2 separate regions of the Homo sapiens genome follow, and region 2 is linked to region 1. The links come from fine-mapping of genetic effects on gene expression. Tissue or cell type: whole blood. Region 1 holds a variant in brackets; the other region holds the start of a gene. All regions are shown on one strand. Distances are from middle to middle. Region 1 overlaps WDR11 (WD repeat domain 11). Region 2 holds the start of WDR11 (WD repeat domain 11).

The links.
Region 2: it holds the start of WDR11, and the variant in region 1 is fine-mapped to the expression of WDR11 in whole blood (INTERVAL, PIP above 0.99).

What each region holds. Positions count from the first base shown.
Region 1 is chr10:120,904,191-120,909,684 of GRCh38, reverse strand. It overlaps WDR11 (WD repeat domain 11), which reads right to left. Exons shown (of 29, transcript NM_018117.12): 25 at 4,874-5,039; 26 at 4,269-4,366; 27 at 3,664-3,809; 28 at 2,830-2,909; 29 at 161-1,129. The coding sequence ends at 972. All of the region lies in intron 2 of LOC105378519 (a long non-coding RNA gene), which reads left to right. Among named protein-coding and RNA genes, the nearest start is that of WDR11, 56 kb to the right of the region's middle. The variant G/A (reference allele first, on the strand shown) is at 3,353.
Region 2 is chr10:120,849,151-120,854,388 of GRCh38, reverse strand. WDR11 (WD repeat domain 11) reads right to left here and starts at 3,027. Exons shown (of 29, transcript NM_018117.12): 1 at 2,883-3,027; 2 at 1,754-1,865. The coding sequence starts at 2,968. It overlaps WDR11-DT (WDR11 divergent transcript), which reads left to right and starts at 3,210. Exons shown (of 3, transcript NR_033850.1): 1 at 3,210-3,695. RefSeq lists enhancers at 2,543-2,602, 2,297-2,840, 2,613-3,082, 3,243-3,362, 2,841-3,385.

The DNA of each region.
Region 1 (5,494 bases):
GTCATTCCTGCCCTGTACCGCACCCATGGGATTCCCACATACAGGTTTCTCTGGATACAGCAGGAGCAGCCAGGCTTTAGAGGCTGGGCGACCAGATGACTCCTAAGGAGCCACCTCATGACCTGGCCTCATGCACAGCAATGCAGAGAACACAAAGGCCTGGATGGAATTTTTAATTTATTTATCATGTTTGTAAGTTACAGACATTTATGTTTTCAGCAACAGTTTATAATAGTTACATCTCATACTTCAACTATTAGAACAGAGAGAACATTAAAGTACAAAGAAAGACTTCAAAAATGAGGTTACTGTGATGTATCATAAAAGGAGTTAAAATTCAAAATATCAAAGACCTCACCTATCGGACTAAACATAAATCTTAAAACCTCCTATGGTCCTCTGAGCCTAAAATTACAAAACTTAGCAACTGCTTAAACCAAGGAATTAACGGTTCTGTGTTTTCAAGGTAAGAAAACAAAAAATGCTTTGGTAAACTACCTTTAATACTAGTTTAAATGTTTCTGCCTTGTTTGTATCTCTCTTGAAAGACTGTATATAAGTACAGGCACAGCATATATTTGAGAAAACATCTCACAAATTTCATTTACTATAGGTTTCTCAATAATCTTTACATTTAATCAATGAGAAAAGTGATTCAGTCTCTTGAATTTTAAGTTAAAAAAATTAAAAAGTATTTCCAGGGACTCTTAAAGCTCTCTCCCAAAGTATAAAATATTATGTACTTTCAAAATCTTAAGCATTCACGTTCTTTCTGAGACCAACGCAGGATACAAACTTACTCTCAACATAGATGCTTATGTGCTTTTGGGCACACATAGTCTTAGAACAGTGGTCAAACAGCTCACAGGACCCTGTACTCCTCTTCATCCTGGACTGTGACGGTGGCCACAGCCAGACCAGCCCCCTCCCATCTGCCTTCCAGGTCAGATTCCCTGGCATTTATTAAGCTGTCACTCTTCAATGGGTTCTTCCTTGGGGGACTCAAGCTCATTCAATAAGTCTTTGCCAGCTGCTCCGGCTTTTGAAGCAAAGAGAACTGCTCCCTGCTTAAAACCGAGGTTCTTCAAACTCCGGGCATAATCTGCATATATAGCAGTGATGAGTTTCTGTAAACCATAGTTAAGGAAAAGAAGAGTAAAAAGGGCTGTGATGAGACTCTTCACAGGCTCCCAGAAGCAGGAAGGGTGAGTCGCGTCTGCTCTGCTGGCTGCTCGGAAGGGACCTGGTGTCCACAGCGGGCAGCACAGGATGAACACAGGAGACTTTTCGCGGGCAGAGGGTGATTCCCGGCCATAGTAGGCCATGTCTCAGTCTGTACCATCATTACCTTTCGTACCAGCTGAGTCCAAAGCTTCTCCTTCCAGAAGACCCAACCAACATCCTCCCATAACCTACACTCAACTGAAGATTGGAAGATGAATGATAAGAGAGGAGAAACTTAACCTGCATATCCTCATTCCATTTGAAAGTCTGAGAGGCTGGCAGTTTGGGGGCAGATATTTATTTCTGAATGTTCCCTATATCTGGTTGTTGGGTTTTTAGAAAGCCCTGTCCTATTGGTTTTTTTTTATTTATTTTTATTTTTTTAAACAGCCTATTGGGTACTCTGTGCTGATGCTTTGATCCTCAAAATGCATACACTGAACCAGTCACCTTCCCAGTGACTAGGTACATGATCTTGAGTAGGCTCAGCCTTCAGTTTAATTTTAAAAAACTTTCAGTGCAGGGCTGGGTGGCTCATGCCTGTAATCTCAGCACTTTGGGAGGCCAAGGTGAGAGGACTGCTTGAACTAGGAGTTCAAGACCAGCCTGGGCAACATAGTGAGACCCGGGTTACTACCAAAAAAAAAAAAAAGCCAGGCACAATGGTGTGGACCTATGGTCCCAGCTACTGGGGAGGATGAGGTGGGAGGACTGCTTGAGCCCAGGAAGTCAAGGCTGTAGTGAGCCATGATCGTGCCACTCACTCCAGTCTGGGCAGAAGAGTGAGACCTTACCTCAAAAAAAGGAAAAAAAAAATTTTTAGTTTAGTTTTAATTCTCTGTTAAAAAAAAAAAAAAATTATAAACACACACAGAGAAAGAGGGAGAAAGAGAGAGAGAACCAAGTACCTGCCATGTAGAAATGAGAGCAAATGTAAGAATTTGAAGCAAAGTGCAGTGAGCAGCAGCAGGACCATGCAAGCACTGGCCCAGTTTCATTCTTTTCTGGTCCTGGGAGTTGCATTCTCAAGTTCATTCTTTTCAAAGAAACCAATGTTGCTCAAGTGCCATTTAGAAGAAATAAAATGTTCTGGCTGATGGGTGGATTATAGTGGCTGGCCTGAGCAACACCTCTCTTTAAGTGCTGTATTTTGTCCCATATCATATTGTCACTAGAGGTGATCGTGAGACTTTTTTAGTTATTCCAGTATATTTTTTCTAGATAAATATATAAAATTTATTCCATGGAATGTCTGGTCTTGAAAAAGTACTATTTCAAAGTACCAGGTCCTTCTACCTGTTTCCCAAATCATTCCTTCATCTTCTTTTTAAGTTCAGACAAGACTTGGGGGCCCTGTCCTCTATAGTCCTTCCTGCCTCCCTCCATCCTAGTCAAAGCTGACACCCATGGTGCAGCCACCTTCTTATCTGATTCTTTGTCCTCTAATTTCTCCCTCTTTCCTGGCTTTGGTGAATCAGAAAATCAGAACATGGATCTTTCACAATATAATATAGTTCCTGTCCAGGCAGCACAACTAAGGGAAATTCCAAAACCCATGCATGTCACTTTCTTCCTCGTCACTACAAACAACCTTGCAAAGGATATCTGTGTCCTCAGTGACTTCAAATGCTCCATACTTGAGGCAAGCTTCCACAAATAAGGCTGCTCTATCAAAGTATCTCATGCTGCTCAACAGAACAAAACAAGAGTTATGCTTTGTGATTTACATCACTGGTGGGCAGCAGCATCGAAGGGTATAAAGACATTTACACATTTTCCCTGGAAACCTGCATACTGCATTAAGATACAAGCACTTTTCTAAGCCCTAGTTTGTTGAAAAAAGGAGGGAAGAATACTCACATCTCCAAACACAAGCTTTTTAAAATTAATACTTTAAAAAATTGTGAAATAGTTTAAATACACAAAAATCTACAGAGATATGACAAGTGCCCATGTACCCCTGTCCAGAGTTGACAAGTAATCTTTTGTCATATTTCCGTAATCTACCTCCCTTAGTTTTGAATAAATGAAATGCTCCACAATTAGTGATGGTTGTTCCTCTTCCAGATTTTCAGACGGGATGTCTCCACCTCACCATGCCTTCTGTCGCCTCTCCCCCTGCTCTCTG[G/A]GCCTCCTCTCAGTTGCTCTAGTCAAAGCTGAATGGACCCCAATTCTCTGAAGACTTTTAAATTCCCTTTTACTAGGTGCCTGTTAAGTCTGATCAGCATATTAGTAGGAAACTAGCATAGCTCCTAGACCGAATGAAGATGTAATGAATACGGACAGTTCCATTCTCCTTTGGGTTTTTTGACAAACCTGAAATGTATACTTCTCCTTTCACTTTACACATCGAGTACCATGACCTGCTAGAACCGCGAGAGAACATGAAGTGACTGCTCACGGGCAGGCCTGAGCAGCCCATGTGAACTCTCGGTTTACCTGTGAAGCGTCTCTGCCACGCTAAAAAAGCAGCCCAGAGAGAGGAGAACCAGGAGAGCCTTTGATTTCTGATTGACTTGTGGAGAACAAAGGTGGTCAACCCACCGCCTTAAAACATCGGCACACTCCTCAGGATTCAAACGGACCTGAGAAAGACGCCTGTGTTAACAACAAAAACATCCTGCACTCTATAAAGAAAAAATAATAATTCAGTTAAAGTGAGATCTGTTTCTATGAAATACAGGCTATGCTCTGCTTGACTAGCACACTGCCCTGAAGCTGCTGCATACTCTGAATAATGATAACGGTCTGTGCCTACGGGACCCAGGGCCTGGCTATACCTCTGGACTGTAGTTTCGGCTCAGACTCTGGGAGAAAGAGGAGGCAGCTGCTTTTACTTAATTGCTACCAATGCAAGATCCATTTTTAAATAAGTAATGCAATTTACACTCATAAAGAATAGGAAAAGGATAAAGGTTCCAAGACAGTATTTGCAAAGCAGCTTTGCAGGCCAAAAAATGTTTCTAAGTCATAAGTCCAAAGTTCAGGACTGAGCTTTCTATCCCGAATGTTGAGGGCACCTATTGAAACTTGGAACCACCTACTTTTGCCAGCCATGCAGCCCGATTCCACTCGCCGTATGTCTGCAGGTAGCGGCAGGCGTCTGCAGCCTTATCTATCAGGCAGAGCAACTGAACGCCCTCTGAAAGACAAAAGCGCATCCCCTTAAGTGACACTGCAGCTCCTTCTTTGAGAAGTCATTAAAAAGTTAAATCCCCATTTGACCTTATCTAGTCGTGCCCATTTTATACCTACTGAAGACATTCTTGATTTAAATTCTGAAACATAATATTAAGAGTTTTACTGTTATTACTCAAGTAACCAGGGTAGGAAGCACAATACAGTCTGGAGAATAAGTAGGGAGAGCATAGTTCTCTCACAGGTTTTATTGTTCTGATTTGCCTAGGATTGTTGGATTTATGCCTATTATCTCAGCAATTATTAACAGTGCCCCCTTTCACTCTGAAAAGTGTAAACAATTAATTCTGGTTTAGACAATTATATTCATCTGATTTATAGGTAGCAATAATTTTTCTATTTTTCTTCAGCATATGTAAAAGAGAAAGAAATGTCCCTACTAATCAGATACTTTGCTGGGAACAAGGTCTCATTTTTCAGAGAGATGACAAACATATCAAGTGTGCCTTACCTGCCAATTTGCCATTGGCAATCATATTCGTTGCCACCAACTTAATGGTGCTCTGAGAGGGGCCTGACGAGGTGACAGTAGTGACTAAACAGGCTTTCAGTGAATCACAGTAATAATGCTGGTTATCTGCACTTGTTTCCAACAGCAACTGCACAGCTCTGTCTGTCTAGTAAGAGAAACGGTTTTTCTAATTATGAGAACATTTTCCTCCAACATAACTTTTTAAAATTCATAAGGTAGAAAACTAAAGGAAAACACTCATTTTCAAAAAATGCAATTGAATATTTTGTTTACAAATACAAACATTAAACAGAGGTGCTACACTACTTTTTTGAGACAAACATAAAGCCAGAGGCTGGTGTATCTAGGTGCTCGAGTAATTGCCTATTTTAGCTTTGTACCAGTCAATTCAGACACAAAAACAAAACAAAACAAATAGCTGGGCTCCACTGGGCATTATGGAAGTCTAAATTACAAGCTGGTTAACCATATGTTTTTTCTCATGAGGTTTATTGGTATTATTTTGAAAGAAAGCCTAAACTGTCTACAGGGAAGGAGGTACATACAAGGGGAAAATATTATGAAATATATACATACAGATATATTGCTCTGAAATACGAA
Region 2 (5,238 bases), 55 kb after region 1:
TACAGTGGAATATTATTCATCAGTAACAGAGTATTGATATATGCTACAACGCAGATGAACCATGAAAACATTATCCTAAGTGAAAGAAGTCATGCACAAAAGACCACAAATTATATGATTCAATTTATATAAAATCCCCAGAATGGGCCAGTCTACAGACACAGAAAGTAGGTCAGTGGTTGCCAAAGGATGAGGGAAATGGGGGAAATGGAATATGACTGCTAGTGGATATAGGGTTTCTTTTTGAGGTAAAAAAGTTCATTGTAATTGTGGCTGCATTAACTGTGGATATACTAAAAGCCACAGAATTGTGCATTTTAAGTCAGTACATTTTATGGTATGAGTATCTCAATAAAGCTATTATTTAAAAAAGAAAAAGACTCCAAATCTCTATCTCTAATCCTGACCTATCTCCTAAAGCCCGGATCACTATAATGCAATATATTACAGGCATCTCAGATTTTGCATGTTGAAAACTTAAAAATTCACTGACTTCACAGATGCTTACCTCTGATAACTGGAAACACTGTCATTCAATTACACCAAAAGAAACCTTGGAGTCACTCTATTCTCTTACTCTCCTTTATACTGATCACTATAAAGGCTATCAGGTTTACCTCTTTGCTGCTCTTAAACATGACTTCTCCATGCCCCAGCTTTATTTTAGGCCCTTAGAATTTCCCACCAAAATTACTGCAGAAATCTCCTAAATGATCTTACTGCCTCCAGTCTTGCATTTCTTCAGCAGATCCTCCACTGCTGCCAGAGTTTTTCTAAGACGCGAATATGGTCACATCAATCTCCTACTCAAAAATCCAAATTCCTGCTGGGCGCGGTGACTCACACCTGTAATCCCAGCACTTTGGGAGGCCAAGGCGGGTGGATCACGAGGTCAGGAGCTCGAGACCATCCTGGCTAACATGGTGAAACCCGGTCTCTACTAAAAATACAAAAAATTAGCTGGGCATGGTGGTGGGTGCCTGTAGTCCCAGCTACTCAGGAGGCTGAGGCAGGAGAATGGCGTGAACCCAGGATGTGGAGCTTACAGTGAGCCGAGATCATGCCACTGCACTCCAGCCTGGGCGACAGAGTGAGATTCTGTCTAAAAAAAAAAAAAATCCAAACTCCTTCGTAATCTTACAAAACTTCAGGACAGACAGCTGAATCTCTCTGGCTGCCTCTTATTTCATCACTCCTACAAGTGTCCCATCTTTAGCCATCTTTATGGCACGCTACTTACTTCTGTGTATATTCTTGCTTTTCCCTGCAATGCTCCTTGTCAATTTTTTACTTGGCTAACTACTGTCTACTAGTCTTGAAACTGTAGACTTCTGTGACTCTCCTCACAACCAGGCAATATGCAGCTCCTCTGTTTTCTCACAGCGTGTTACGCAAGTCTCACTTATCACACTATCACGCTGTGAGTCTTCCTTATAAGATGGAGAATTATCTGAGGGCTTTCATCTCCATATCCATAGCATATGGTAAGTGCTCAAAACTAAGGAATGACTGAGTGGTCTTGTAAATGGTAGAACTTTCATCTGCCTTAAAATGATCTAACAACTAGCATTTAATAACTCACCCTGTATTGACATTAAGTCATATATATGAAAATTCTAGGCTACCCCAAATAGGTTGTTATATTTAAAAGCTATTCAACACTTACACGTAAGACTTAATGAGAGCTTAGTGATACACAGTATTAAACTTTAGACTAGACAACATGTTAGCGTCAAAGTGGGATTTTACTTACCTTTACAACATCAGCTTTATGCTTTTCTAAAACTTGAAGAGTTTGGGCAGTAATGGAATCAATCACTACCACAAGTGAATGACATCCATAAGCAATTAAACCTTGCCAGCCCCTAGCAAAACAGTAATGTTAAAGTTTAAGTACAGAACAAAGCAGGACGACTTCTTTCTTGCCAAGCCTAAATAAATGATAAGTCTAATTCATATGTACCACCATTAATAAAATCATTTAAACCCAAAGGCCAGTATTTATCATTATCCCACTTAAATAAAAGATCTGGCTAAGCTTAAAATGCTTGTTGAAATTCACTTTTCATTCGGATAAAAAAAGTTCTAAAAGATATGAAAATAGAGACCCGAGGACATAAAAAGGAACTTGTGCCCTCTGACTGTTCTTGTAGGCATACGTCTTTCGCTTATCCGATTTCTAATCCTTAGTATCCACAATGTGCCTGGGGATACTGCGACTAATCCTAGTCCTTCCAACTAAATAAAACGACAAACACTGCACAAGACGTTTCAGTCCTCCTAACAACATCCCACAGCCACAGAATTTTGCTTTACATTTGTCTAATGAGTAGTTTTCAGAGCTGCAGTAGTAATTTATAGTGAAAGGAGAGAGTAATAAAGACGACCTGTTGAAGGCAGGAATGTTCTACACAGGAGGAGCCCGAAAAGAGGTGAAAAGGACAGGTGAAAGAACAGGCGCCTAGCACAGGGTCTGGCACATTGTTGAAAGACAACAGGAATACAAGACAACGAAAAAGAAAAGACAGGATGGGAAAGAGAAAGTGCACAGGGAATTAATGGTGGAGAGAGAGAAGCCTGGAAGCTGGAGGAGAGGAAAAGAGAGAGGAATGGAACGGCAAAAGGGCGAGGTGCAGAGAAAACAGCAGAGAAATACGCGAGAAAGAGGGGAAATGTATTTGCATGGGGGAATTTCCCACACGGGGCTATTATCACTTTTGTAACAACAAAAATCCACCAACTGAAAGCAAGCTCATTGCGTGAGGGCGGCTCCCTGCCTTAGCGAGGCCAAACTAACCAGGGGGTGAAACCTCTTGTCCTTCCCCCTTCCCCCTCACACATTCCTGGCCGATCCTGGCGACCTGGAAGCTCGGCGTCCTCACCAGTCCACCGCCGCCTTGTTGTGGGCGTTGAGGGCCCCCGTGAGGGTGCGCGCCGACACCTTGAAGTTCACTGTGTAGGGCAACATCCCGGCGGCCAGCCCAGGACCTGGGCGCTGACCCGCAACCAGGAAGCGGCGGACACTGTGCTTCCGTTCCAAACAGAGTCCGGGTGGCCCCCTCGGCGCCGCTGTCAGGTTCCTCTAGATTCAAGTTCTACAGGCTCCGGGTTCCACCGCTCCCGGATTCCATCGCCCCCAGGTTCCGTTGCCTTCAGTTTCCTAGGATCCTAGGTTCCGCACTCTCCAGAGTTCCGCCGCTTAGGCGGTTGTGCTAATCTGCGTCAGCTGGGGCTGTATTTGGAAGAAGAGGCGCTGCCTCCAGTCAAGTCTGTTTTTTTCAGGTGGGGACTGTAGGCCTTTGTGCCCTGCTGGAAATCGTGAAAAGCAAGAGAGAAGAGTCCCAGTTATTCTTGCTGCCTTTGATAAGTGAATTTAGGGCAACTACTAGTGCCAGTAGGCATGGGGGATCTACCGATGAAGAAGACACAAAGTCTCCGCTCTCGTGGAGTTTACAGAGAATAATGAATGAGATTAATTAAGAAATGAATGAGATTAATTGAATGAAATTGCCAGACTGAATGAAGTGAATGGCCTGAATATAAACAATTTCCAAATACAGATAACACTGCATATCTGGTGTTTGCAATACTCCCTTCGCACTTGAGGAAGAAGCACTATGTCTGGGGCCAAGTGTGACCCTTTGTCTGTTGCTGGGTACCTTTCATTTCGCACTTTCTCCTCTGCTGCTCTCCAGGTCAGACCCAGTCCTTCCCTCCTTTGTGTTCAGTGTTGGGTTTATACGCTTTAACTATAGCACTTAATGCAATGATTTCTTTTCAGCAATGATATTTGCAGATGTGTGTTTCTCTCCCCAATACATTGTTAGTTTCATGCGCGTCCGTGTGAAGAGACCACCAAACAGGCTTTATGTGAGCAATAAAGCTGTTTATTTCACATGGGTGCAGGTGGGCTAAGTCCGAAAAGAGTCAGCGAAGGGAGATAGGGGTGGGGCTGTTTTATAGGATTTGGGAAGGTAATGGAAAATTAGTCAAAGGGGGTTGTTCTCTGGTGGGCAGGGGTGGATCTCACAAAGTACATTCTCAAGGGTGGGGAGAATTACAAAGAACCTTCTTAAGGGTGGGGGAGATTACAAAGTACATTGATCAGTTAGGGTGGGGCAGGAACAAATCACAGTGGTTGAATGTCATCAGTTAAGGCTGTTTGTACTTCTTTTGTGGATCTTCAGTTACTTTAGGCCATCTGGATGTATACATGCAAGTCACGGGATGCGATGGCCTGGCCTGGGCTCAGAGGCGTGACATTCCTGCCTTCTTATATTAATAAGACAAAACAAAATAGTGTTGAAGTGTTGAGGCGGCGAAAATTTTTGGGGGGTGGTATGGAGAGAGAATGGGTGATGTTTCTCAGGGCTGCTTCAAGTGGGATTAGGGGTGGCGTGGGAACCTACAGTGGGAGAGATTAAGCTGAAGGGAGGTCTTGTGGTAAGGGGTGATATTGTGGGGATGTAAGAAGAAACATTTGTCGTATAGAATGATTGGTGACGGCCTGGATACGGTTTTGGATGAATTGAGAAACTAAATGGAATAAGAGAAGGAGAAAAACAGGTATAAAAGGTCTAAGAATTGGGAGGACATAGGACATCTGATTAGAGAGTGCCTAAGGAGATTCAGCATAGTCCTGCCAGCAAAGATTATTTATTTACTTCAAGAGTTTAGAGTGGCAGTTTGGGGATAGCACCAGGAGATATCAGCTGTGATGGCTTGGAGAAACAGTGTAAACCGGCAGTGTAAACAAGAGCAGGGCATGTATGAGTAGTTGAGAATGGTGAATAGGAGTATGACTACAAAAGATAGGGATGACAAGTTTTTTGGGGCACAGTCTAAGTTGGTCTGGTGTCAAATGAGACTGGGGCCTAATAAAAAGGAGCGTCTATACAGGAGCTTAAATGGGATGTACCTTGTAGCATTCTGAGGACAGGCCTGAATTCTGAGAAGCGAAAGTGGTAAAAGTATTGTCCAGTCCTTTTTAAGTTGGTGGCTGAGCTTGGTGAGCTGTCTTTTTAAAAGACCTTTAGTCCGTTCTACTTTTCTTGAAGACGGAGGCCTGTAAGGGATATAAAGGTTTCACTGACACCTACTAAGAGCCTGAAAAACTGCTTGGCTGATTTGACTAATAAAGGCTGGTCTGTTATCAGACTGTATAGAGGTGGAAGGCTAAACTGAGGAATTATGTCTGACAGAAGGAAAGAAATGACTGTGGTGGCCTTCTCAGACGCT